2 separate regions of the Homo sapiens genome follow, and region 1 is linked to region 2. Evidence: fine-mapped QTL for protein levels in blood plasma. A gene starts in region 2. The other region holds a variant in brackets. All regions are shown on one strand. Distances are between the middles of the regions.

Region 1 (8,000 bases), 2.9 Mb before region 2:
ACACTGTAGACATTTAGAGAAAGGAACTTAAGGAGGCAGTGAGCAGGTGTTTCCTGAACAGTGTGAGTCTTCTTGAAGGAAGATGTGATAGAAGGGTAGGATGTGGATGGGGAAGTGACAACGGGTGAGCAGAGCCTGCAGGTGAAAGTCGCAGAGCCTCCTTCCTGTGAACGGGAGTGGGAACCTGGCCGGTCTGAACCCAGGCTCCCATGAGGAATGGTGGGAAGCATGTGAGACACTCAATGGCCAGGCAGGCCTGAGACAAGGCTGAGAACTTGGATCTAGTCTAACAAGCAGCCACAAACCCTCTCAGGCAGGAAAGGCATTTGGGGAAGATTAATCTGGTGTCAGGATTGACGGCCTTTCCCTTAGCTGCAGTCGCCCCTTCTTTGTGTTCAACTTCATTTAATGATAGATGGTTCTAGAATTAGCCGGAGACTAGGACCTTAACTTCCCAGGGTTGGGAAGCAATTTGAGAATTAAGTCATGGTTGTTTAACTCTGAAATAAAAGTGGTGCTAGGCTTAGCCATATCACTTCAGGCTGTTCAGAATAATTTTTCTTTTAATTGCCACCATATCTTCCTGAGGAGATACAGAAGAAAAAACAAATGCTAGAAAAAGGAAGGGGCAAGTCTGAAAACATTAAGATCTTGGTTATATATTGATACAAGATTTCCAGAGCAAATACTTTCTGTTTCTCTCCCTGAGAAGAGCTGAACATAGCCAGGCAATTTCTGTGTAAAGTTCAGAGAGAATCCTGACATGTATTTGTGTGTACATTGTTCCTGAGGCAGGGTGGAATGGGTTGCATCTAATTCACTCCCTTCTTTTGGCAGACACTTAGACTATCACAGTTCTTCTCACAGGACTCACCCATGGGAAGCCAGAGGCCCCACAGACCAAGCACACGGCCTGGTCAGAACAAAGCTCCCCATTTGCCTTCCCTGCCTCTCAGGCCCCTGCCACCTCGCCCGGGGCTCATCGTCACTCTTTTCTTCCTCTTCTCTCCTTCCCTATTTTGTCCCACTTCTTGTTTATTCTTCCTCTTCTCTCCTTTCCTATTTTGTCCCACTTCTTGTTTTCTGAGGTGGAGGATGGGAAAGGGGACCAGAGTTGAGTATGAGACGAGAGAACCAAGAAGGCAGGAATACCGCATGTCGATTGCATTCACACTTAAGAAATCCTGCCGAAGCTCATTGTTCTTCATTAAATGACATATTTATGGTTTCCAATACAGTAACTTCTCAGAAAACCCCAATTAGCTATTCTTATCGCTGTTTTGCAGACTGAAGGAACATAGAAGGACACAGTGGCCCCTGCCCTGCATTCTGGCTGTATCACAAGTGACTGAGAGGCCTTGGGCAGCTCACAGAACTTCTTGGGGCCGGGTGTCCTCATCAGAAAATTTAGAAATACGTCACTTCCTGGGGTTGTCTTCACCTCCAGATTCCACAGTTTCCTGTGGCTCTGAAACCAGAGTCCACGTCTCCTCATTCCGAGTTCCACTTCTTTATACCATGTTATTCTTTTGTCTCTGAGAGCTTTGAAATATTGGGGGAATCATAAGGTCTTAAAACATAAATATTATATAAACAAGGTGACCTTTAAAATGCTTTTGTTGGAACTTTGCATCTCTAGAATGTGTTGCTGTATCCATTTGTGCCAGCCTTCTTCCTATTCAGAAACTGCTCTTGTCAGGACACCAGGGCTGAGACATCTTCCCTGGCATGCTGTTGAGTGTGAATTGCTCTGGTTTTTTTTTTTTTTTCTTCTTCATTTTTTAAGTTCTGGGATACATATGCAGGATATGCAGGCTTATTACATAGGTAACGTGTACCTCGGTGGTTTGCTGCACAGATCAACTCATCACCCAGATATTAAGCCCAGTATCCATTAGCTGTTCTTCCTGATGATCCCCCATGGCAGGCCTCAGTATGTGTTTTTCCCCACCATCCATGTGTCCATGTGTTCTCATTGTTCAACTCCCACTTATAAGTGAAAACATGCAGTGTTTGGTTTTCTGTTCCTGCATTAGTTTGCTGAGGAGAACAGCTTCCAGTTCCATCCATGCTCCTGCAAAGGACGTGATCTTGTTCCTTTTTATGGTTGCGTAGTATTCTGTGGTATATATGTACACATTTTCTTTATCCAGTCTACCACTGATGGTCCTTTGGGTTGATCTCATGTCTTTGCTATTGTGAATAGGGAGTGCTTACACTACCCCTCCTCCAAACCCAGGCAACAAAGCTCCCAGCTTCAAAAGAGACCCCTTCCTTCTGCTTAAGGACAGGAGGGGCAAGAGTAAAGAGGACTTTGTCTTGCATCTTGGTTATCAGCTCAGCCACAGAGGGATAGGGTACCAGTCAGAGCTGTGAGGCCCCATTTTCAGGCCGTACCTCTCAGAAAACATTTCTAGAGAGACACCCTGGGCCAGAAGGAGACACTGCCTTGAAGGGAAGGACCAAGTCCTGGCAAGATCCATCTCTTGCTGACTTAAAGAGCCCTTGGTCCCTGAATAACCAGCAGTGATACCCAGGTCATATGCCATGGGCCTTGGTGAGACTCTGAGACTGCTGGCTGCAGGTGAGACCCACCACATTCCCAACTGTGGTGGCTATAGTGAGAGACTCCTTCTGCTTAGAAAAGCAGAAGGAAAAGTAAAAGGGACTTGGTCTTGCACCTTAGGTACCAGCTTGGCCACAGCAGGGTAGAGCACTAAGCAGGCTCTTGGTGTCCCTGATTCCAGGCCTTGGCTGTTGGATACCATCTCTGGGCCTTCCCTGGGCCAGAGGGGAGTCTACTGCCCTGAAGGGTGAGTCCCAGGCCAGGCAGCACTCACCACGACTTGACTGAGGGGCCTTTGGGCATTAAGTTAACATCGGCAGTGGCCTGGCAGTAATCCCTGTGGGCCTGTCGTGGTCGTGGCCTTGGGATGAGGCTCTTCTGCCTGTGGAAAGGAGAGGGGACCATGGGAAGGACTGTGGCTTACAGTTGGAGTGCCAGCTCAGCCAGAGTGGAATAGAAGGCCACGTAGATTTCTAAGGTTTTTATCTTCAGTCCCTGGCTCCTAGACAGCATCTCTGGACCCAGCTGGGGGAACTCGCTGCCCTGAAGGGAAAGACACAAACCCAGCTGGCTTCACCGTCTGCCGATCATAGAGCCCTAGGGCCTTGAGCAAATACAGGCTGTAGCCAGGGAGTGGCCTTGGGTAAGACTTAGTGTTGTGCTGGCTTCAGGTGTGACCCAGCACAGTCCCAGTCGTGGTAGCCACAGGGGTGCTTATGTCACCCCACCCCCAGCCCCAGGCTGCTCAGCACAGGGAGAAAGAGAGACTCCATTTGTTTGGGAGAAAGTAAGGGAAGAGAACAAGAGTTTCTGTCTGGTATTCCAGAGAATTCTTCCTGATCTTATCCGAGACCACCAAGGCAGTACTTCTGTGAGTCTGCATGAACTACAATGTTACTGGACTTGGGGTGCCCCCTAATGCAGATACAGTGTCAGTCACAACACCCAAGTCATTTCAAATACCTGGAAAGCCTTCCCAAGAAGGACAGCTACAAACAAGCCCAGACTGCAAAGACTACAATAAGGACCTAATTATTCAGTGCCCAAACACCGGTGACATCTGCAAGCATCAACATCATCCAGGAAAACAGCCTCACCAAATGAACTAGATAAGGCATAAGGTGTCAGGGACTAATTCTGGAGAAACAGAGGTATGTGACAGAGAATTCAAAATGGCTGTTCTGAGGAAACTCAAAGAAATTCAAGGTAACACAGAAAAGGAATTCAGAATTCTATCAGATAAATTTAACAAAGAGATTGAAATAATTAAACAGAATCAAGCAGAAATTCTGGAGTTGAAAAATGCAGCTGACATACTGAAGAATGCATCAGAGTCTCTTAATAGCCAAACAGATCAAGCAGGAGAATGAATTAGTGAGCTTGAAGACAGGCTGTTTGAAAATGTATGATCGGCAAAGACAAAAGAAAAAAAGAATAAAAAACAGTGAGGCACAGGTATAAGATGTAGAAAATAGCCTCTAAAGGGCAAGTCTAAGAATTGTTGGCCTTAAAGAGGAGGCAGAGAGAGAAATAGATAGGGAGAAAGTGTATTCAAAGGTATAATAACGGAACCTAGAGAAAGGTATCAATATCCAAGGACAAGAAGGTTAGAGACCACCAAGGAGATTTAACCCAAAGAAGGCTACCTCAAGAAATTTAATAATCAAACTCCCAAAGGTCAAGGATAGATACAAAATCCTAAAAGCAACAAGAGAAAAGAAACAAGTAACATACTATGGTGCTCCAGTACATCTGGCCGCAGACTTTTCAGCGGAAACCTTGCAGGCCAGGAGAGAGTGGCGTGACATATTTAAAGTGCTAAAGGAAAAAAAACTTTTACCCCAGAATAGTGTATCTGGTGAAAATATCCTTCAAACAGGAAGAAGAAATTAAAACTTTCTAAGACAAACAAAAGCTGAGGAATTTCCTCAACACCAGACCTGTCGTATAAGAAATGCTGAAGGGAGATATTTAATCTGAAAGAAAAAGACATTAATGAGCCAGAAATCAACTGAAGGCATAAAACTCACTGGTAACAGTAAGTACACAGAAAAACAGAATATTGCAACACTGTAACTATGGTGTGTAAACTATTCTTAGGTAGAAAGACTTTTAAGATGAA[C/G]CAATCCAAAATAATAACTGCAAAAAAGAAGACCCATTTGTATGTTGTGTTGGGAAAGATGCTCAGTGAAAAAGAGTATATCACCAAACAGTATGACCTCATTAAATATACATATATTAATATAATCCCCATCTTAGTGCATGTATATAAAAATCAGATAAGTACCCAGTGCTTAACACTGGTCACCATTGACATTATCTGCAGGTGTTAGGATCCTGGGGGGTTTCACTCTCCTGCATTTGCTATTTTTTTTGCAATGTTTAACTTTTTAACCAGAAGCATATGTTATTTAAGCAGAAAATATTATGGAAATACTTTTTCAATAAATACTTTTTCAATTAAAAACTAAAATGAAATCATGTGTCCCAAACCCACCAGGGATCACATATGAAATTAAGAACTTCATTGAGTCAGGAATTGAGACTGAAAATATTGAGACACAACAATTAAGGAAGGTTAAGAATAGAGAGCAGAAGTTGCCCTGAGCCCTGCATGTGGCTCCACCAAAGTCAGAGGAAGCTGCTCCAGGCTGGGGATTCCCAGAGACATCCCACTCTGCTTGTGATCCCAAATGCCTCGAGGAGTGCAATGGCGCAATCTCAGCTCACTGCAAGCTCCGCCTCCCGGGTTCATGCTATTCTCCTGCCTCAGCCTCCTGAGTAGCTGGGACTACAGGTGCCTGCCACCGCACCCAGCTAATTTTTTGTATTTTTAGTAGAGATGGGGTTTCACCGTGGTCTCAATCTCCTGACCTCGTGATCCGCCCGCCTCGGCCTCCCAAAGTGCTGAGATGACAGGCGTGAGCCACCGCACCCAGCTGCAGCTCACCATTTCACTGATGGTGATGGCCAGTTTACTGATGCACAGCTTTAATGGTTACTATGTTATATTACATTATGCCAAATTATGCTGCTTTGGGTTACAACGTGTGATGTTACATAGTGTCATATACATGTTTACTGTCTACCTCATTTTACCAGAATGTAGCCACCTGGAACAGTGCTTAGCACAAAACACCTGTGGAATGTTTAGTGACAGAAATTGTTAGGAAGTTTATTAAAACCAAAATCTTCCCTGTAGCTTTAAACCACACATAATGTCATTTCCACAAGCCAGCCCCTCAAATGTCTGACACAGAATCCATGCCCTTCTCATGCTTCTTCTTTGCCAAAATGCTAATTAGACCCATCAGAACCATGCAGCAACTGTTCGAATATAGATCTGTTGCGTTTACATGTATTTGTTCATTGTTTATTGCTTCTCTCCTCTCATGGTGCTTACACCTCCTGAGAGCAGGGGCCATGTCTGTTGTATTCTGCTTTGTTTCCCAAGACCTAGAGTAGTCTGAGTGTCTAAATGTGTGTTTGGTTGAACGCATGCCTGAGTGTACAGGTGCACTAATAGAAACTGAACTGATTGGCTCTATTAAGTCTCAGACTGTTCAGCATGATTGTTAGACCTCTTTTCAAAACAGGGAACTGTGTCTGTGTTGTCAGTGAACATCAAGGGATAAAAACATTGGTCTGAAATTTGTAGATTGCCTATTCGCCCTTGAGTACTAAGAACCTTCCTTCTCACCTTCTCATAGAGACTCTTGTGAGATCATGTTGGCTCCCTCTTTAAAGACACATTTAGCAAGTGAGTTCAGGCTCTCACCTTCTTTAGCCATTATTAATTTAATGTCTTCCTCTTTTATCTTTATTTGTTTGCTCCCATAGAATATCTTTTCCCAATGGATAAGCACTTTATCAGGCTATACTGATTCAGTCTTCTAGAAAACTCTATTTTCTTCAAATAAAAGCAGTTGTCATCCTGTTTATATTTTGGTCCTAACTTCTCTTTTCTTGAAGATCTATGAACTTTTGGGGGGGAATGTTTTAATATTTTCCTTCTTATTCTTAAGGATAGTTTAACCTTATTTCTGAAAAAGGAGAAAGAAAAGAAAAAGAAAAGATGGTTTTTCCAAGGCTAACCAGCTTTCCTCCAGCCTCTGGATTTTACTGTCAATATCTGGAGCATGTTAGTAGACATTTTCTGTTTCCTATAAAGTCATCCTGCCTTCACATTCATCCTTAAGACCCAGAGACATCCCTGCTGTCCTAGGGCAATGCCATTCAGTGATTTATAAATCACCTCTCAAAACTGAGAAAAATACTTGCATAAAGTTAGTAGAAGCCTGCTCATTTGGAAGTGGTTTAGCTGGGAAACATTTGAAAGGGAGAAAGGCATGTGCCTTCGGCAGGATTGTCCTAACCTTCCCTCTGGTAAACCAGAAGTCCCACCTGACCGGGAACTTTGATCCTGGCCCCAGTAGTTTCCAGGGTTTATTCTTGCCCAGGCTTGTCACCTTGCTCAGCCACCTGCCTGGACAGTAATCACTGCCCTGTCATCATAGCCAGGTAGCCTCCCGCTACACTCCCAGCTTGCCTAACACCTCCTATACTACCCAAGCTGGTGCCTGCAAGGGTAGTCTATAGCATGAGGGCAAAGCTTCTAATCTGTAGAGCCCCAAACTAGAAAGAGGATGTATGCTGATTTCTAGTAACTATCCCTTTGAAGAAAAATTCCAGACCCTGAGATAGCATTCTTCCTTCCCTTTATGGACATGCTGCTTTAGTGGTGAAGGGAGTTAAGGAAGCAAATTATTGTTTAATAAGCACATTTTTATTAAGCCTTCTGTTTGACTATGAATAATTAACCAGTTAAATATTAAATAATTAAAGAGTAAAATAGATTAAAAAACAAATTCATAAACGTCTTCTATATTTATCCCCTTTCCTCACCAGGTCGAATCCAGAAGCTGTCAACACTAGTTATAAAGGTAGCAATACAGCAATAATTATTTTTTATGAGCACCTACTATGTGCCAGCTATTACGCTAGGTTCTTTGTATATTTATCACTAACCACTCAGGTAATCCTGCAAGATAGAATGATTGATACCAATTTACAGATAAGGACACTAATAATCGGAAAAGTAAACTTGCCCGAGGTCATTCTGCTGGTTTATGGCAAGGCCAAAATTATACAAGGTTTCCCAGATGCTGACTCCAAGCCCGATCTCTTCTACCCTCTGCTTCTCTGCAATTGCGACAGGGGTTTTATTGAATGCACATTTCCAAATTGTCTGTGGAAAGGGGTTCAGGAATGGGTTGTGTGGAAAACGTGGCCAAGAATGTAATTTTCACCCCCTTCTCCTTCCAGCCTCCACAGTCTTCCAGTCTGTCCCAAATAATGCCATTTTTTCCTTTAAGTATATATGAAAGAGTGGTTTGATTGTTGCAAGCCACAGTTAGTTCAACGATCATCTATT
Region 2 (8,222 bases):
TGACGACTCAGTCCCTCCAGAGACCTGGCTGTAACCCGAGCAGAGGTGTGCACTGTGAGGTCGCCCAAGGGCGTATGCTGTCCCCTGGGGTGTGTAATGGGCCCTCTCTGGGACTGGCTGGGAGCTGACCAGATCTTCTAAAACTAGTCTGGGATCGGTTAGAGACTCAGCCTCCCCAAGGTCCAGATTTTCACAGTGGTGCTGGCAATGTGACCACTTGCCCTCCAGATCTTTGACTTTTCCAGATCCCTAAGCCCTTGGGAAAAGGCTGGGGGATATCCTGATAGGAGCCACTGGAAAATCCGCATCCGGGGCTGTGATGACGGATGTTTTCCTGCTTCCTTTTGGTACTGGTGACAGGGAGGGGCTGGGAAGGGAAAGACATCCCAGGTGGGCAGCTTTGATAACTCTCCTTTGGAGGAAGTAGGGAGGGAGAGTCCTTTTCCTATGTCCCTAGTCACCTCGGTCCCCAGGCGCGCTGACCCAAGCTTTCTCACTTCCCCATCTGTGGGATGACGGCAGTCCTGGCTGCCTTGGAAATCCACCAGGCAGCGTTCACCAGAGAACCCAGTGTCCACCCAGGGCCTCCCTCTGGCTGCCTCAGGAGAGCTAGTAGGTGAGTAGCTCAAATGAAGGGCAGTGTGGCCCCCAACCAACATCAAGAGATGGGAAGGGGGACTTGCTTTTCAGGAAAGACTCTTTAGGTCATCTCTAGGGGCTGGCCTGAGCTGCTGGGTGATCTTTGAAGACCCTTGAGAGTCATTTAGCACAATTTCTGTGTCTTTCCTTGACACGACCACAAGCAGTTGTCAAGGCCTGAGTCCCAAAGTGTGGATACCTTCCATAGATATGCTAGGCCCTAGGGAGACTAGTCAGGTACGTGCACCTCCCCCCACCCCCGGTACCTGTATTAGTAATTTTTTTATTAATTGAAGACCCAGAAATCTTTTTTTTATATCAGTTGTACTTTCATTTAGAAGTATGAATCATGAGCAAGTAGTCATGCAGGAAATTGTATCCTCTGCCCACCCACCCACAGAAAGGGCCAGTGCTGGAATGGACAGAATACAGCAGGAAGTGCATGAAGGTGGAAAAGGGGAGGGAGCTGGGAGCTTATCTCCGAGAGCGTTTGGGAGGATAGGCGCGTGGAGTCTGTTAGCTGGAGGCTTCTACATTCCTGGGCCTCCAGAACCCAAACGCCTGCCGCTGCCCTGCCAGTGAAACCAAACCGGTTGCCTTTTGAAACTTTCCACTGAGGCCACCTTGGAGTCAGAGCCAGCGAGCTCAGGTCTCTCCTGGTAACCTTCACACCTAGAGGTGGGGGGATGGGGGAGCAGTATTGAAGGTGAGGAAAAACAGCATGAAATGGAGCATTGTCAGGATAGATGGTGACTCTGTGGAAAAACAGAATCGGGAGTCCCAAGACCTGATTTAAAAATCTGAACTTTCCAGTCTGAGCAATATAGCGAGACCCTGTCCCGTGTATGATGGTGTGCACCTGTAGTCTTGGGAGGCTCACGTGGGAGGACCGCTTGAGCCCAGGAGTCTGAGGTTACATTGAGCCATGACTGTGCCATTGCACTCCAGACTGGGCAACAGAGTAAGACCCCGTTTCTAAAAAAGAAATTCTGACCTTTTTATCTCCATGACTTGGGGCTAGTTGTTTAATCTTTTTTAATTATCTCCATGACTTGGGGCTAGTTGTTTAATCTTTTTTAATTATCTCCATGACTTGGGGCTAGTTGTTTAATCTTTTTGACTCATCTCCAAAAGGGGAGCAACAATACTTATTTTTTTAATTTTGTCGAGGCAGGGTCTCGCTCTACAGGCTGGAGTGCAATGGCACAATCACAGCTCACTGCAGCCTCAACCTCCTGGGCTCAAGCGACCCTCCCACTCCAGCCTCCTGAGTAGCTGGGACTTACAGATGCATGCCACCACGCCCCCGCTAGTTTGGTTTGTTTGTTTGTTTGTTTGTTTGTTTTTGAGACAGAGTCTCCTTCTGTTGCCCAGGCTTGAGTGCAGTGGAGTGATCTTGGCTCACTACAAGCTCTGCCTCCTGGGTTCACGCCATTCTCCTGTCTCAGCCTCCCGAGTAGCTGGGACTACAGGCGCCCGCCACCACGCCTGGCTAATTTTTCTGTATTTTTAGTAAAGACAGGGTTTCACCATGTTAGCCAGGATGATCTGGATCTCCTGATCTCGTGATCCGCCTGCCTCAGCCTCCCAAAGTGCTGGGATTACAGGCGTGAGCCACCCCTCCCCGCCACGCCCCGCTAGTTTTTTTTTTTTTTTAATTTGGGGCTGGGCGTAGTGGCTAATCCCAGCACTTTGGGAGGCCTAAGCAGGTGGACCACCTGAGGTCAGGAGTTCGAGCCCAGCCTGACCAAAACGGCGAAGTCCCATCTCTACTAAAAATACAAAAATTAGCTGGGCATGGTGGCGCATGCCTGGTCAACATGGTGAAACCCCGTCTCTACTAAAAATACAAAAATTAGCCAGGTCTGGTGGCAGGCACCTGTAATTCCAGCTACTTGGGAGGCTGAAGCAGGAGAATCACTTGAACCCAGGAGGTGGAGGTTGCAGTGAGCCGAGATCGCGCTATTGCACTCCCGCCTGGGTGACAGAGTGAGACTCTGTCTCAAAAAAAAAATAATAATAATAATTTCTTTTGTAGAGACAGGGTCTCAGTATGTTGCCCTGGCTGGTCTTGAACTCCTGGGGTCAAGTGATCCTCCCATCTCAGCCTCCCAAATTACTTACTTTTTAAAGGGTGGTCATAAGGGTGAAGTAAGAAAATGTACATCAAGACAAGCTGCAAAAATCTAAAGCACAGAACACAAGTGAGGGCACTTGCATCTCAGTTTACCCTCCGCTTGAATAGATACGGGGAATAAACTAAACACGAGGGTGACACACCTTCTCCCACCTTGTCAGCTGAAGCAGGAGGCCTTCCCTGCCCACCCCATGGTCATTATCTCCAGCATCTCCAAGGCCACAGCTTTTTTTCTTTTTCCTAGTGGAAAAGAGCTGGGAAACGTGGCTTTGGCCAGCAAGGGAGAAGGGGCCATTATGTGTACCAGCAAAGACCCGATTGTTACTGAAACCAAACTGGGCTGCTTTTCTCAATTATCTCCACCACTTTTCTGGTCTCCACTTTTCAGATGCCAAGTTTTAACCCAGAACAAAAGCTGCTGTCGGACTGATTTATAATCCAGATCTGCTGACGCAGCCTGAAGTGTTCCTCCCCTCCAGGACTGCACCCTGGCTTAAAGTTACCTCCAAACCTCAGGACGTCAAGCCCCTTCACCTCTGCCTTTTGCCCCTAGCCAGGAGGTAGCATCTGTCTCCAGGTGCCCGTGGGGTGTCCTCCATGAGGACCACCTCTTCTAACCACCTGCCCAGCTCAGAGGACCAGCTGGCAGGAAAGACGCTGCACCGCCCATGAGGCCAGAGCTACAAGTTGCTTCTAGGAGTGGCTGTGGGCGGAGGCTGGTGGTTCTGAAGGTGGCGGTGGTTCTGCAGCGTGGCTCCCCACAGCCCCTTTCATCTGAACAGTAGGGCTCATGCCACTTGTTAATCAGCCTTCCAGTGGCACGAGGAGTCATTTTCTGGGGATAGGCGCTTTGCCCAAAGCGTGAGAAGCAGGAGCAGGCCCTTTCTGTTGATTGAAGGGTCTTCCTGGCTGGTGAAGCCCTTTCCAGACTTGAGGGCAGGGACCAGTGGTCCTCGGGGCCTAGAAAGAGGCAGAATTGGGGGCCAAACGGCAGACCCCTCTGGTCCGCCCCAAAAGACGCCTCGGTTCCCCCAGCGTGCCTCCCCTGGATACTCGCCTCGACGTGGCTCGCCCGCGGTCGTTCCTGCAACTGCACGGTCGGGAGTCCCTCTCCCCAGCCCAGCCCGCCCGGAGTCTTCGGGGGACACTTCAGAAAGATCGGGTGAGTGTGATTCCCCCGTGGCCATACCCGGAGTCCCTCCCCCGCCCCACCTCCCTCCAGGCGCTGTGGCGCAGCCCGCGACTCCGAGCCCCGGGGCTGCTGGACACCCGGAGGGGTTGAGGTCCGGGCACCCAGAGAGGCGGAGGTCCGAGCCCCCGGGCGGAGAGCGGGCGGGTCCACAGGTCGCTGCGGGTCGCAGCCCCCTCCTGAGCGAGCCTTCGCGGCCCGCCCCCGGCCTCCGCTCGACCCCCCCAGCCTGACGTCAAGGGGAAGGGGGCGGAGAGCCGCGGCCGCGCTGGAGAAAGAGCCGGCGCCCGCCGTGGTGGCGCGGGGAGCCCGAGCCTAGGGGCGCGGAGCCGGGCGGGGACGGAGGGGCGGTGGCAGAGAGGCCGCGGAGGGCTGGCGGGCGAGCGCGGGCAGGCGGCGACGCGGGGGCAGGGGTGGACGGCGGTCAGAGCCGAACGCGAGGGCGGCGCCCGGGGACTGGAGCTGCGCGCAATAGGTGAGCGAGGCCGGGCTTGCGTGAGGCTGGAGCCGCGGGGCCCCGGAGCCGCCGCTTTGTCCCTTTGCTTGGGCAGGGGCTGCCGGACGCGGGAGGGACAGGGGCTGGGGCGCGGGGAGCCGCGGCGGCGGAGACGGCTGTACGCGGGGATCCTTCCTGCGACCCCCGCGGCTGCTTCGCAGGGTCTCGGGAGTGGGGCGCACAGCACCTGCAGCCCCGCAGCCCCGGGGCCGGAGGGGCGCGCCAGCGAGGGTTCCTCGCGCGGTCCGGTCCGCGGCCGGGATCCTCGCCAGGCTCCTGGACTGCCCTCGGCGCTCCCACCCCCGATGGAAAGTTTGGGGCGGGCTTGGAGGGAGGCCGATGTTGTGGGATCGGATTTCCCTGCCGCGGCCCCCCGCCCGCCCGCCCATTCCGCTGGGGAGGCGGGTTGTCCCGGAAAGCCAGGCCCCCGGGCCGAGCCGGGCCGCGCCGTCCCCGGCTGGAGCGCTCGCCCTGCAGGGAGGGCCGCGGTCCACGGCTGGCCGCTCGGGGTGGGCGAGGGTGTGGGGTGCCCCGCCTGGATCCCGCACCCCTCCCCCCAACCCCTCCTCCCGGCTGCCCGTTTCCTCGCCCTGGGGGGAGCTGCGGGTGGGAGCACCGCTGCCGGGCGGATCCTCGGAGCACGCCACGGGGTGCGGCCCGATCCTCGGGTAAGGAGCCGAGATGAGGCCGCGGGCGTTTTGGGGGGCTGGTCTGGGGCGCAGCCCCCGCTCTCCCGCGCCGGGGCTCTGGGCCGACAGGGGGCGTCCGCAGGCCGGGCTCGCCACGCTCCCCGCGCCGCCGCTTTGTTTGCGTTCAAATCCCTGGAGCTGGGGGAGGGGAGAACCCGGGGGGACCCGGGACGGGGTCTTGGCGGGGACCCTTTGTTTGGGGGTGAGCAGGTCCCCAGCTTCTGCGTCTCCGCCCCTGGCACGGGAAGGCTGGAGCAGGGGAAGCCAATCCCGCTGGCCCGCCCAGGCCAGGGTCCCTGGGGCGCAGTCCCCGAGTTGGGAAGGTTCGTCAGAGTCGCGGGAGCGCAGCGGGTGCCGGCCGTGCGCGGCGCGTTGCCAGCGGCCCGGGAGGAACCCCCTCGCGTCCCCGCCCCTACCTCCCCCCGTCGCCTGCGCGCGCCGCCGGAGTCCCCGACTCGACCCGAGCTCGGTCCCCCCACCGCCCCTCCGCCAGAGGGCTGGTGTTTCGGAGGAGGCAGTGCGAGGAACAGGATGAGGCCCTGGTCATTTCCACGCCCATCCCACCCACTTCCTGCCTCCCTCTTGGGCAACAAAGGGGCCTCGGGAAGCTGGGCCCCTTCGCTCCCGGCCCTTCTCACACTCCTGCCCTGCTGATGTGGAACGGGGTTTGGGGTTCTGCAGGGCTATTGTCTGCGCTGGGGAAGGGGACAGGCCGGGACCGGGACCTCCGCTCGCAGCCGGCCGCACCAGGTTTCCCCTTTGGGGCTTTCCCGACCGCCTACCCCACCGCATGCCCTCGTCGCCCTAAGGAGTCTTCCTCCCAGAATTAGGTGTTGGCAGGGTCCGGAGCCCCAGTGGCTGCAAGGCCTGCTGCCTGAGGTTCTTTCAAGAAACTCAAACCTCTTAGGCCTGAGTGTGTATGTTGGGCGGGGGTCCCCTTTTTATTTCTCAAATGATTTCCTGTTGCGCAGAGGTAGTGGTGGGTCTGGAGGCCAGGGAGGGCTTCCCGGAGCCTGTTTAGCCTTCAGCCAACTCAACTCCTCCCCGCTTCCCAGGGAGACCTGTGGTCTTTTAGGCAGAGGCCAAGTGTGGGGACTTAGGTCCACCTCCAAAGAGAAGGGGAAGGAGGGCACCGGGGCTCCTGGAAGGCCTGATGAGGAGTCCTGTGGCCTCTCCTGCTGCGGGCCCCTCTGGTTTGCTTTCTCTGGCTGTGATTTCTGACCATGTCTTTTCCCTCAGCAGGACAGCTGGCCTGAAGCTCAGAGCCGGGGCGTGCGCCATGGCCCCACACTGGGCTGTCTGGCTGCTGGCAGCAAGGCTGTGGGGCCTGGGCATTGGGGCTGAGGTGTGGTGGAACCTTGTGCCGCGTAAGACAGTGTCTTCTGGGGGTGAGTGCCTGGAGGGGTGAGGAGGAAGTCAGGGACAGGCTGCTGAGGAGTTGCCCCCATAGTGTGCTGGCTTTATTCTCACGTGTGTGGCACAGCTTTCTAAGAAACTCGAGTTGGAAGAACGGGCAGTGTGGGTTGGGACCTGGGATTAGCCTCCTCTGGGGGAGCTCTGTCCAACTCCCCACCCCAGACTGCCTGCCCAGGTGTGGGAGGGGGAGAGCCTTCTGCCTCGCCCTCTCCACGCCTCGCTTCTTGAATTGTCACTGGCGCTGGGAGCCTAAAGAGAAACTGGAACCGGGATAAATATAAACTGGAGGCTCTCTCCCCTGGCTCCCCAGGCCCCCCTAAGACCTCCTACTGCCCTGTACACATCATACACTCTGGTGGCCCTGGAAGTGTGTGTGTATGTGCACATGCTCGCATGGTTGCCGGGGCACAGCGGGGACCCAGCAGTGCTCCCTGTGCACACACCCGTGTGAAAGGTGATGTCAGGTGTTTGTATCAGCCGTGCGCTCTGGGGACCTGGGATGAGCTCACCTCCCACAGGCTCCACTCGGGTGCCAGTGAAGCCCTGCCATGCCGGTCTGTGTCTGGATCCATTGTTGCCTGCAAAGACTAAGGCTGGTTTGGGGGGACCCTGAGGACAGGTCGGCAGCCATATTTGGCAGCTGATGTAGGAATCACGTGACTGTATAAATGTCGTAGTGCCCTGCATGCCGGGTGGCAGCAAGACTTCCCAGGCCCCAGCCCCATCTCCGCTCTCTGAGCCTCTGGTTTCTCCGGACCTCCCTGGCCTGGCTCACAGCCCAGCTCCCCTCCTGCCATCCCCACCTGTCCTAGTGGCCTGCTGTGCTCGCATCTCTGGCAGCCTGGATTGGGGTCCTGCTGGAGTGAAGGGTTTCCTGAGGCAGGGAGTACTCATAGCCGTCTGTGCCTCCTGCTCTGCTGGACTCTGATAGAGGCAGTGGGCAGCAGGGCAAAGAAGGAAGCAGCCGCCGAGGAAGCGAAGGTGGGGTGGGGGTGCCCAGCCCTGCGGCCGGAGGTGCCATTGACCCTGAGAGCAAGAGCCATCAGTCTGATGGCTTCCTCTGGCCGGAAGCTGTGGCTGAGATATCCTTCCTTCCTCCCAGCAGCCTGGATTTGCCTCCTCCCAGGCTGGGAAAGGCTAGGGAGGCCCAGGTGGGGCTGTCAGGGCCAAAGGCTGTTTCAAAAGTGTCCTTTATTGCCAATCAGGGGGTTTGGCTGGCATCTGCTTGTGGCATGGGGTGCTGGCTCTCGTGGAGCAAGACTGAGGGCTGTCGAGCCCCAGGGGTCCTGCCCATCAGCAGCCATGCTTACCCCTGCAGAGCTGGCCACGGTAGTACGGCGGTTCTCCCAGACCGGCATCCAGGACTTCCTGACACTGACGCTGACGGAGCCCACTGGGCTTCTGTACGTGGGCGCCCGAGAGGCCCTGTTTGCCTTCAGCATGGAGGCCCTGGAGCTGCAAGGAGCGGTGAGAGGTGGGGCAGTGGGAGGCAGTCGGGCCTGCCAGAGGGCAAGGCCCAGAGGGGCTGTGCTTGGCTAGGTGGTCCCTCAGCCTGGCTGCCCCCACAGAAGTGCTGCTGGGCATCCGGGGCCTGCCCTCTGGTTGGGGTCAGCATGCGGCATTCCTCTCCTCTCTGGCACTTACTGAATTCTGTGT

Direction of the effects. Positions count from the first base shown, and alleles are read on the strand shown. Strength reflects both the effect of a copy and how common the allele is.
For the plasma level of the protein whose gene starts at base 4,236 in region 2, G is the low allele of the variant in region 1 and C is the other (weak association).

What was found. PIP is the posterior inclusion probability: the model's chance that the variant is causal. Protein levels are from antibody-based Olink assays in UK Biobank. Linkage for the fine-mapping came from a reference panel and not from the study's own genotypes, which makes the PIPs less certain.
Region 1: its variant is fine-mapped to the plasma level of the SEMA4C protein (UK Biobank, PIP above 0.99).

Annotation. Positions count from the first base shown.
Region 1 is chr2:99,765,183-99,773,182 of GRCh38, reverse strand. The region is part of intron 8 of AFF3 (ALF transcription elongation factor 3); the gene reads left to right. Among named protein-coding and RNA genes, the nearest start is that of REV1, 280 kb to the right of the region's middle. The variant C/G (reference allele first, on the strand shown) is at 4,689.
Region 2 is chr2:96,866,094-96,874,315 of GRCh38, reverse strand. SEMA4C (semaphorin 4C) reads left to right here and starts at 4,236. Exons shown (of 15, transcript NM_017789.5): 1 at 4,236-4,440; 2 at 6,393-6,538; 3 at 7,885-8,033. The coding sequence starts at 6,430. It overlaps LOC124908044 (collagen alpha-1(I) chain-like), which reads right to left and starts at 5,942. Exons shown (of 3, transcript XM_047446878.1): 1 at 5,898-5,942; 2 at 5,567-5,731; 3 at 3,193-5,288. The coding sequence starts at 5,942. The coding sequence ends at 4,281. RefSeq lists enhancers at 1-10, 577-1,077, 7,647-8,222 and silencers at 3,914-4,203, 4,244-4,343, 4,374-4,443, 4,464-4,563, 4,884-5,043 and 1 more.